Linked DNA regions of Homo sapiens: region 1 is linked to region 2. Evidence: fine-mapped expression QTL. A gene starts in region 2. The other region holds a variant in brackets. All regions are shown on one strand. Distances are from middle to middle. Region 1 overlaps ATP5MC2 (ATP synthase membrane subunit c locus 2). Region 2 holds the start of TARBP2 (TARBP2 subunit of RISC loading complex).

Region 1 (5,325 bases), 160 kb before region 2:
CCACGCCCGGCTAATTTTTTATTTTTTTATTTTATTTTATTTTATTTTTTTGAGACAGAGTCTGACTCTGTCACCCAGGCTGGAGTGCAACTGTGTAATCTCAGCTCACTGCAACCTCTGCCTCTCGGGTTCAAGCAATTCTCTTGCCTCAGCCTCCCAAGTAGCTGGGATTACAGGTACGCACCGCTACCCCCAGCTAATTTTTGTATTTTTTTTCTTTCTTTTTTTTTTTTGAGACAGAGTCTTGCTCTGTCGCCCAGGCTGGAGTACAGTGGCTGCGGTCTTGGATCACTGCATCCTCTGCCTCCCGGGTTCACGCCGTTCTCCTGCCTCAGCCTCCTGAGTAGCTGGGACTACAAGCGCCTGCCAACACGCCTGGCTAATTTTTTGTATTTTTAGTAGAGACAGGGTGTCACCGTATTAGCTAGGATGGTCTCGATTTCCTGACCTCGTGATCTGCCCACTTCGGCCTCCCAAAGTGCTGGGATTACAGACATGAGCCACTGCGCCCAGCAATTTTTGTATTTTTGGTAGAGACAGGGTTTCACCAGGTTGGCCAGGCTGGTCTCGAACTCCTGACCTCAAGCAATCTACTCATCTCGGCCTCCCAAAGTGCTGGGATTACAGGCGTGAGCCACCGCGCCTGGCCTAATTTTTGTATTTTTAGTAGAGACGGGGTTTCACCATGTTGGCCAGGCTGGTCTCCAACTTCTGGCTTCAAGTGATCCGCCTGCTTTGGCCTCCCAAAGTGCTGGGATTACAGGTGTGAGCCACCGCACCCAGCCCATTTGTAGTTTCTTAAAGCCCCAGATCTTCTGACTATTTGAAATGAGAGAACATAATCTGTCCCTCTTACTCTTGTCTTCTAGAAGAGCGGTGTTCCATAAATCCTTAGGATTCTGAGGTTATGCCCCAGAGACTGTCTTAGAGAATAAAGGGGAGACCAAGCCGTTAAAATTTCCCCACTACTTTTGTACCATTGCAGTTTGGCTTTTAGATGTTTACTATATTGGAGTTCTGCTTAAAGTTTGAAAACACTGCTCTAGATAGACCCTTCCATCCTATTTGGGCCCTGGATATTAAGTGTCTGGGCCAAGAGGTCTTAATTTGTGGTAATGAGATGGGTGAACCATTAGTGAAGGTCATGATTATACCTGGGCCATGTTACAGGATTTTAGATTGCCTGCTCCCCCTTCATTCAGTTCCTGTAGAGCCTTTGGGGAATCAGGGCAAGAATTTGGGCATGATGGTGTTACCCTAAAAGCTTCTTTATTATGTGAGATAATCTTGAAGAGGGGGATTCTCCCTGAGCCCATCTTAGATATTTATCCTTTTCTTTGTGTGAACTAGAAATTCAGTCTTTTCTCTTCTCCTTCTACCAGGAACCCTTCTCTGAAGCAACAGCTCTTCTCCTACGCCATTCTGGGCTTTGCCCTCTCGGAGGCCATGGGGCTCTTTTGTCTGATGGTAGCCTTTCTCATCCTCTTTGCCATGTGAAGGAGCCGTCTCCACCTCCCATAGTTCTCCCGCGTCTGGTTGGCCCCGTGTGTTCCTTTTCCTATACCTCCCCAGGCAGCCTGGGGAACGTGGTTGGCTCAGGGTTTGACAGAGAAAAGACAAATAAATACTGTATTAATAAGATGTTTCTTGAGTCTCCTGTGTATATTTCTTTTCCACAGTTGGCTGAGTGCCTTCGTGAGAGTACAAGGCCCGAAGGGTAGTGATGGTGCTAAACTCAACATGGATTTGGCTGAGCTCACTTTTTCTTAATTCTGTTTCAGGAAAGCTTTATTTGAAATAGCATAACATTTTAAATTATTTTCACCTGGCATGGCCTGCTACTTGCCTGGGAAGATTGGGGTCAGTAGCAACTTCAAGTTCTGGCTTAAAATGTTGGCTAATAGGCTTTCTGTTTCCACTGTCACTCTCCTG[G/C]CTCAGGCCCTTATTGTCATCCACCTCGTCTATTGCAAGAACCTCTTAACTGGCCTTCTGCCTCCAGTCTCTTCCCTCCAGCATTTACTTCTCCTTACCACTGCCAGGTGAATCCTCCTTAAGCATAAGACTGGTTTTATCAGTTAATGGTTCAAAAAGTCACCTCAACTTTCTCTGCTTTATCTGTTTAGTCCTATACACTACATAAAGTGACTGTCATTTTTCAGATGTTTTCCTGTCTTTACCATATCTTCCTGCCTTTTCCTTTCTCTGCTCATTTCTGCTTTCTTTCCCTGCATCTTTGCTCACTTTCCTCTTTTTCGAACTCTGTTATCCCTGAAGACTTAAATTTAACCTCCATGAAGCTATTTTCTGGTTCCCATCCACCCTCAGCCAAAAGAGCATTAAAGAGCCAAAAGAGATCGCACCACTGCACTCCAGCCTGGGCAACAGAGCAAGACTGTCTCAAAAATTTTTTTCCAAATCCTTCATTGGATTATTTATTTATTTATTTATTTATTTATTTATTTATTTTTGAGATAGGCTCACTCTGCTGTGGTGCAATCTCAGATCACCGCAACCTCTGCCTCCCAGGTTCAAGCGATTCTCCTGCTGTAGCCTCCTAAGTAGCTGGGATTACAGGCGAGCACCACCATGCCCAGCTAGTTACTTTTTGTATTTTTAGTAAAGACGAGGTTTTGCCATGTTGGCCAGGCCGGTCTCGAACCCAGCCTCAAGTGATGCACCCGCCTCAGCCTCCCAAAGTGCTGGGATTGCAGGCGTGAGCTACCATGCCTGGCCTGGAATCAAAATTTTTAAAAGTCTGGGCCAGGGGCGGTGACTCAACCTGTAATCCCAGCATTTTGGGAGCCTGAGGCAGGCAGATCACCTGAGGTCGGGGGTTCGAGACCAGCCTGACCAACATGGAGAAACCCCATCTCTGCTAAAAATACAAAAGTAGCCAGGTGTGGTGGCACGTGCCTGTAATCCCAGCTACTTGGGAGGCTGAAGCAGGAGAATTGCTTGAACCCGGGAGGTGGAGGTTGTGGTGAGCTGAGATTGTGCCACTGGACTCCAGCCTGGGCAACAAGAGAGAAACTCCATCTCAAAAAAAAAGTGGCCAGAAGGCATCTAGAGAGAAAACCCAAGGATGCTGAAGGCAGCAAGACCTGCTTCCCTCTTCTCAGTTTCTTACAAGAGTCAGTTGTGTTTCTTCAGCACCACAGGAGGAGCGTCAGTAGGTTTGTGCCATCCTAAAATTAGAAGCAAATGGTGCCCTTTGAAAATCACCTCAATGCTGAACAACGGTAATGAGGAACCATGCTCCAGCCTCCCTTTCAAGATGGATTTAATAGTTTGAGGCCTTCCAAGGGCATCAGGATGAGAAAGCTGACCAGGAACAATGGTAATTTGGCTTGAGTTGGTGTCCAGGAACCTGGGGCAGCTCTGTGTCTCCACACAGATGAGATGAAGGAATATTCATGTATAATTCAGGAATAGAAAAAAAAAGGGTAGTAGTATCGCAGTAGTGAGTAGAGAATGCTGTCCTGGTCCCTCAAGTTCTAAGCAGTGAAACTTTGTCTTTTTTTGTTGTTTTTGTTGTTTTGAGACAGAGTTACATTCTGTTACCCAGGCTGGAGTGGAGTGGCACAATCTTGGCTCACTGCAACCTGCACCTCCTGGGTTGAAGTGATCCTCCTGCCTCAGCCTCCCGAGTAGCTGGGATTACAGGCACGTGCCACCACGCTCAGCTAATTTTTTGTATGTTTAGAGAGAGGGTTTCACCATGTTGGCCTGGCTAGTCTTGAACTCCTGGCCTCAGGTGATCTGCCCGCCTCAGCCTCCCAAGGTGCTGGGATTACAGGCGTGAGCCACTGTGCCCAGCCAAAACTTTGTCTTTATTGGGCCGTATCTCAAAATAGCATGCATTTTCCAACATGTATTCTTAGGAGACATTCCTGGATATCGTGGCGTTCTCACCATTTGATGAGGAAAAAGTAAAACACAGGAAGATCTTTTTGTCCCCAGGCATCCTTAAAATTTATTTTTGGCTGGACGTGGTGGCTCATGCCTGTAATCTCAGCACTTTGGGAGGCTGAGGCGGGCGGATCATGAGGTCAGGAGATGGAGACATCCTGGCCAACATGGTGAAACCCCATCTCTACTGAAAATGCAAAAATTAACCAGGCATGGTGGCGCACGCCTGTAGTCCCAGCTACTCGGGAGGCTGAGGCAGGACAATCATTTGAACCCCAGAGGCAGAGGTTGCAGTGGGCCGAGATCGCACCACTGCACTCCATCCTGGGCAACAGAGCAAGACTCTGTCTCAAAAAATATATATTTTTAAGCATTTATCTCAAGGCACTGTGAATATTAGCATATTGTAATCAAAGTAGCCACTTTAGAAATGGCAGAAGACAGGGATAGAATACCAGGCATGAGGTTAGTCCTCTTCATCCCAAGTGCTTGGCTTCTCTTATTAGTGTAAATGGTTAGTTAGAGATAATTTATTCCTGCTGCTTCCCCCAACCACCAAAGAGAAATTTTCTCTCATCTTTTGAAGTGCTAAGGTGGGCAGAATTTTTTAAGTGACCCCTTAAGAATGTCCTACCCTGGCCGGACGCAGTGGGTCACGCCTGTAATCCTAGCACTTTGGGAGGCCAAGTTGGGCGGATCACTTGACATCAAGAGTTTGAGAGCAGCCTGGCTAACATGGCAAAACCCTGTCTCTACTAAAAGTACAAAAATGAGCTTGGTGTGGCGGTATGCACCTGTAATCCCAGCTACTTAGGAGGCTGAGGTGGGAGAATCGCTTGAACCCAGGAGGCAGAGGTTGCAGTGAGCCAAGACCATGCCACTGCACTCCAGCCTGGGCGACAGAGCAAAACTCTGTCTCAAAAAAAAAAAAACTTTTTTTTTTAAACGTATGCCATACTCTTAGTATATCTGTTTTGTTTATGTGAAATAGGTGTGTGGTTTTTTGGTTTTTGGTGTTTTGTTTTGTTGGTGTTTTAACAGATGAGAAAACTAAGACTCAGATTCAAGAATCATGATTTGGACCTGACAGGGTGACACATACCTATAATCTCAGCTACTTGGGAGGCTGAGGCGGAAGGTTCTCTCGAGCACAAGATTTCAAGACCAGCCTGGGCAACATCACAAGACCTTGTCTGTTTTTAAAAAAAAAATGAATGAGGCCGGGCGTGGTAGCTCATACCTGTAATCCCAGCACTTTGGGAGGCCAAGGCAGGTGGATCACGAGGTCAGGAGTTCAAGAGCAGCCTGACCAACATGGTGAAACCCCGTCTCTACTAAAAATACAAAAATTAGCTGGGCATGGTGACGCACACCTGTAATCCCAGCTACTCAGGAGGCTGAGGCAGGAGAATCACT
Region 2 (5,368 bases):
GAAAATGGGGCCTGCAAGACCCTTAAACATGGTCGGACATCATTCATAAGGCTGTCTGAAAATCACAAATGACCTCTTGTCCCAAGAGCTTACCAGCTGCTGTGATTTCTTCAAGTTCTGGTTCCCAACTATTCCATTCTGTTTATTCTCAGACTTCCTCATGCCTGACCAGCTTGGGTCCAAGGACTGAGGGACCAAAAACCAGAACCCCTTCCTCCACCCACCTCAGGCAGTCAGGGGACACAGATACCTGGTTAGGACTACAGATGGAACTGGGGTAGCAGCTGCTGCAGCAGTAAAAACCGGAATGTCCTCAGGCAGTGAAGAGTCTAGGGGAGAAAAAGAACTTCCCGAGGGGAAGGGGGCCTTTGATTCACACCCATGTATAGGGGGAAGAGAGGGGTGGGGGACCCACGTCCTCCTGACCTCCCAATCCCCTAAGAGAACTTCCAAATTGAGCCAAAGAATCAGGGAGGCTCAACCAACAGCTTCCTCCTCGGATCCTTTGCTGCCAAACACCGGCGAAAAGACTGAGAAAAGAGAGTCTCAGAGAAGAGGGTATCTTTGTACCCAAGAACCAGAGGAGCAACAAACTCCAACCTGCGCGTGAAGGAAGGACATCTTGCTAGAACAAGGAGGTATGTTGGGGAGTAACTCCCTTTAGCCTCAAGCCTCTACCCCTCTCCCTCCCTAACCCAGGCCCCAACCTACTGCCACAACCCCTCTATGGGGCTAACCAACCCCTCCACCCCAAGAATTCTTCATAGCAGCAGAAGCCCTGGAAAACCCTGTTCAGGTCCAGAGGGACTCTCAGGAAGAGGCCAGGTCAGGGTGGCTAAGTGTCACCTGGCCAGGCCTCGGGGCAGAGTGGGTGGTGCAGGGCCTGGGTTCCTTGAAGGGCTTCTGGGATGCCTCGGTTCCTCCCTCACCTGCTGTCCTCCAGGGCCGGCTCCAGCATGCTCCCCCCTTTGAGGTGTTTGAGGGCCACCTCAGCTGCCTTGTGCTTGGCTGCCTTCTTGCTGGGGCCCTGACCTGAGAGAGGGGGCATGGGCAATACTGGAGGTCACTGAAAGGACGGGAAAGAAACCAGCATCCCACAGCCTCTCTCCTCGTAGCCAGAGGGAATCAATCAAGCCCCTTCTGACCAACCTCCCCCTGCTGAAGACTGGAAGTGTTTCACTAATTGCTGGAAGGAAGAGCCCTTATCTTTCCGTTAGCTTCCAGAATTAAGCCATGCCAAGCAGGACTTCTGAGCTCAAACGCCTTGGGTGGACTTCTGAGCGCAAATGCTTTAATTTCCTTTGCAAAGCACTTTCTTTTCCCTCAATAAATACAGAGAGCTGGAATAAGAGAGGGTAGGCTCTGGAGTAAAAGCCCCACTCTGCCACATACTAGGCATGTGACCATGCACCAGCCATTTACTATCTCAAACACTCAGTTTCCTCATATTCAACATGGGCGGGCGGGGGGAGGAGTCGGGGGGGCGGATACTACCACCTACAATCATTGGTTAGACTGAGGTTTAAAATTAAACGGGAATTTGGTTAAGCACCGGGAACAGAGCCCAGCACGCCAGGCACTCACTCCCCCAAATACTCCACTGGGATTTCAGTTATCTTCTCTTACTTTTCCTCTAGGGTGATGGGGATCTGCCAGATCACTGTGGGAGTCCTGCTCGCTCCTCTAACTCTCCCACGTCCTACCCACCTTCTTACAGCCCTGTTCTCCCAATCCAGTCAGTAGCTTTTCCCCTGAAATCTCTCCTTCCCTCACTGGCCTTGGAGAAAAGGACTGTGAAGAGAGAGACTCCAAGAAACAAAGCCATGGGGACCTGCAAATGCACACCCCAGCCAGGCTGCCCAAGCCTTCCTCACCAGTGCAGCTGGTGTCGCCAACGGTGACCCGGAAGGTGAAATTAGGCTGGTGGGCTTGGCCCTCGGCTTTGAGAAGGTCGTACACAGGCGTCTTCCCTATTCTGGTCCCATACTCCTGCAGAAGGCTGATCGGGGTCTTGCCTGGGTTGGCGGCCAGCATTTGCTCTATACTGGGGGAAGGGGCACAGACCCACATCACACCTCCCCTCTCTGCACCCACCTAGCCAAGCACTTCCATACCAGACCTAGGCACATTATGGGGGACATAGGGTCCAAGGAACCCCAGACAGTCTAGCATCCATTGGCTGGGTTCCAAGTGGAGGTGCAGGCTGGAAAAGTAGGGCCCACTACCCCAAAGCAAGGGGGGAAGAATGCATTGCTCCTGCCTCAGTTAAGGTGGGCACGATCCTGTGCCCCAATGCAGGTTGAAAGTGCATACCCCCTGACACAGTGCAAGCCAGGAACCCAGTACCCACCAAATGCACTGAATGTGGGGGCATAAAGCCCAGTGTTCCAGTGCAGTCTGGGAACCGGGCCAACCCCAAACTATTTAGAGCTGGAGGCAGCAGCCACTGCCCCGGTGCACGCCGGGAACCACTGCCCACTGCCCCAGTGCTTGCCGGGAACAACCCTCAGGCCAGGTGCATGCTGGGGCCGCGCCGCTACTCCCTCCGCACGGCCCCACGCTTTTCGCCCTGAAGGAATCGGTACGAGACGGCTCACCTAGGCAGCCCGCAGCCCGTGGTAGTGCCGGAGCCTTGCTCCTCTTCACTCATTCCCTCCTCCGTCCCCGCGGGCGCCACCGTGACTGCAGCCTCCACGCGCCCCAATACACAGCCGACGAGCTAGGGCCGGGGCCAAGCCCGGAGTCGCGGCCGGTAGGGCCCGCCGCGGGGCACGCTGGGATATGGAGTCCCCCGCCCACCCTACTTCGTGAGCCTCCATCTGGAGGGGAGCTATCCGCCCCACAACCCTCTGCGTGCGTGGCTCGCCCGGGCAGGCTGCACCGCCTTCTGGGAGGAGCGGGCCCTCCGCCGTCGCTTCTCGAGAAGGCCGTATTTTTTTGTTTGTAATACCGTCCCGCCTCCTTCCTTCCGCGCCCCCTCTCTCCCGGTCCGTGAAGCTGTGGACATGCGTACTAGCGGAGGGGAAGCCGCTGGGTAGGGAGGCGGTAAGGACTCACTTGGGCACGGAGCCTTTTGGATCGCGAGAAAACTACAGAACCCAAGAGCCCGCGCGCCATCTGTGTCGCAGCTGGAGAGGCAGGGTCAAGCACGCACGAGAAGCTTCATGGCGTCATTGGTTACTCCCATTGCGATTACTTCCCCTAGGTGCACTGAGATTGGTTACTTCGACTAAAGGGGCGGAGACAAGGAAAAGTCAGCCCCCCCCGACCCCGCCTCCTTGATGAAGGAAGGTTGTGATTGGTCCGGAGAGGCTGCCGTCGGATCCTGGCTCTTTGCGGTCTGGGAGGGTGGGCCTTACCTAGACGCCGGAGGGGACCGATCTCTGTTTCCGCAGGGCTCTGGAGCTGGTGCAGGTTTAAGTCCGTCTCAGACAGTCCCCTCAACCCACAGCCTAAGCCCCTTGCCCTTGGGCCTCCGTGACACAGAACTTGCTTCCTTTTCCTAGGTCGTCCTTCACCTCCCTTCAGGTGTTGCTTCTTTTGTGAAACCTTTTTAGAACCGCTCTAGTGAACCTCTCTTTAACTGGCGAGGAAACCTCTGGGGCCTGATAATCAGGCTGTAATGTGGGACGACAGGATTAGAAGGACTAGGCACCTTGGTGGTCTTGTTCCCTCTTCCATGAGTCTTGGGTCTCTCAGCTGAAGAGAGCAAAAGTGAATTTTGGCCGCCTAAGATTAATCAACTGATCTGGGTGTTGAGCAGACGCGCATTGTTTAGTCCTAGAGCCCCATTGCCTCCTCCCCCAAAGTTGCACAACCACTGGGCTGAGGGAAATCTTGTGACCTTGGAGAGAGAAAGGGAGAGACCACATTAAAAAAAAAAAAGGTTCTAATGAGTGTTCTGAGAAGGGGTCAAGAAAGATGTCTTACTCTGAGCCGGGGTTGGAGGTCCAGAGGAATCTTGAAATGATAATGAGGGGTCATCCAGGAACACTGGAGGAGGATGGGGCCTAGAGCCGAGTGAATTCCAAGTGGGTGAAATTGGAGTGAGTGGTGACAATCAAGGGAAGGAGAGCTGGCAAGATCGGTATGATAGGGGGAGCAATGCCAGAGCGCTAGGGATCCCAACTGAGGGGCTGCTCTCTCCGATGTAGAAAGGAGTCTATAAGACGGGTCATAGGGGGTTCCTGTGGAATCAGCCTGAGGCCTGAGGTGGGACCTCCATAGGACACCGCCAGCAGGGAGGCGCGGGGCCCAGGCGGGCCAGGTACGAGCCTGGAGCGCGCCGGATGGCAGCAGCGGGCTCCTTTAAGAGGCCGGCGGCTCCATCGCAGCATCCCCCGCTCAGGGCGTGTCCGTCCCGGGGGGCCAGGGGCGGGGGCCCTGGAAGGAGCGGGAGTTCAAGCCGAGCAGGGACGGGGCTAGGGGTCGGGGGGTGGGGGCAGAAAGCTGAAGCTGACACCCGTGCATCCGGACACCGCACGAGCATCGCCTGTGACAGCGCCCCGGGTCCGGTGGAGGGCAGCGGGGGGAGGAGGGAAGGAGGAGGAGAAGGAGGAGGAGGCGGGAGCAGCATCCGGAGCGGAGCTGCAGCAGCGCCGCCTTTTGTGCTGCGGCCGCGGAGCCCCCGAGGTGAGAGCCTGGCCGAGTTGTGGGGGGGTGGGGGGCAGGGATGGGTCTGGGTCCTGGGATCCGGGCGTGGAGGGAGGGTCGGGATGCAGATGTGGCCTGGTGCGGGGTGATGGCGTGGGGATGCTGAGGCTGTGGGGATGGAGGAACTGGGGACCTGGACCCGACGCCTGTGGGGCTGGGAAGGAAGGGAATGGAGCGGAGGGATGCCGCGGCCCAGCTTGGAGACGAAGGGCCTCCAGAGCTGGAAAGGACCGTATTGGGGTGGGGTGGAGGATGATTGGGGGACAGACTTAAAGGACAGAGGGCAAGAGAACATCTCCTCCCACTCATCCTCAGGAAGAGAGAGAGGGAAGGAGGAGGGAGAGTTTTGGCCCCCTCTAGGGAAGGAAAGGAAGGGCAAGGACTGATATACCCACCATCTCCACACACACACACACACACACACACACACACACACACACACACACACACACACACACACACACACACACACACACACACACACACACACACACACAGCAGGCTGGACCTGAAGATTAGTCAGAGAGCACCTGTTCCTGCATGCCCAGGCGTTGGTCCCCCTCCCCTTCAAGCTGTGATCCTCCTAATCCCCTCCAGCTGTGGCATTCACCTCCAGCTGTGGCATTCACCTCCATCCAGCTGTTGCATCCTCCCCTCCCCCATTCACGTGTGGGTTTCTCCCTCCTCTTTCTCTCCATCTCCTCTGGCTCCCCTA

Evidence for each region.
Region 1: its variant is fine-mapped to the expression of TARBP2 in prostate (GTEx, PIP 0.94).

Annotation. Positions count from the first base shown.
Region 1 is chr12:53,661,486-53,666,810 of GRCh38, reverse strand. ATP5MC2 (ATP synthase membrane subunit c locus 2) reads left to right here. Exons shown (of 5, transcript NM_005176.7): 5 at 1,383-1,641. The coding sequence ends at 1,497. Among named protein-coding and RNA genes, the nearest start is that of ATP5MC2, 12 kb to the left of the region's middle. The variant G/C (reference allele first, on the strand shown) is at 1,933.
Region 2 is chr12:53,498,691-53,504,058 of GRCh38, reverse strand. TARBP2 (TARBP2 subunit of RISC loading complex) reads right to left here and starts at 2,776. Exons shown (of 9, transcript NM_134323.2): 1 at 2,598-2,776; 2 at 1,875-2,044; 3 at 930-1,032; 4 at 251-346. The coding sequence starts at 2,650. MAP3K12 (mitogen-activated protein kinase kinase kinase 12) reads left to right here and starts at 4,601. Exons shown (of 14, transcript NM_001193511.2): 1 at 4,601-4,632. RefSeq lists an enhancer at 2,842-3,141 and a silencer at 4,235-4,484.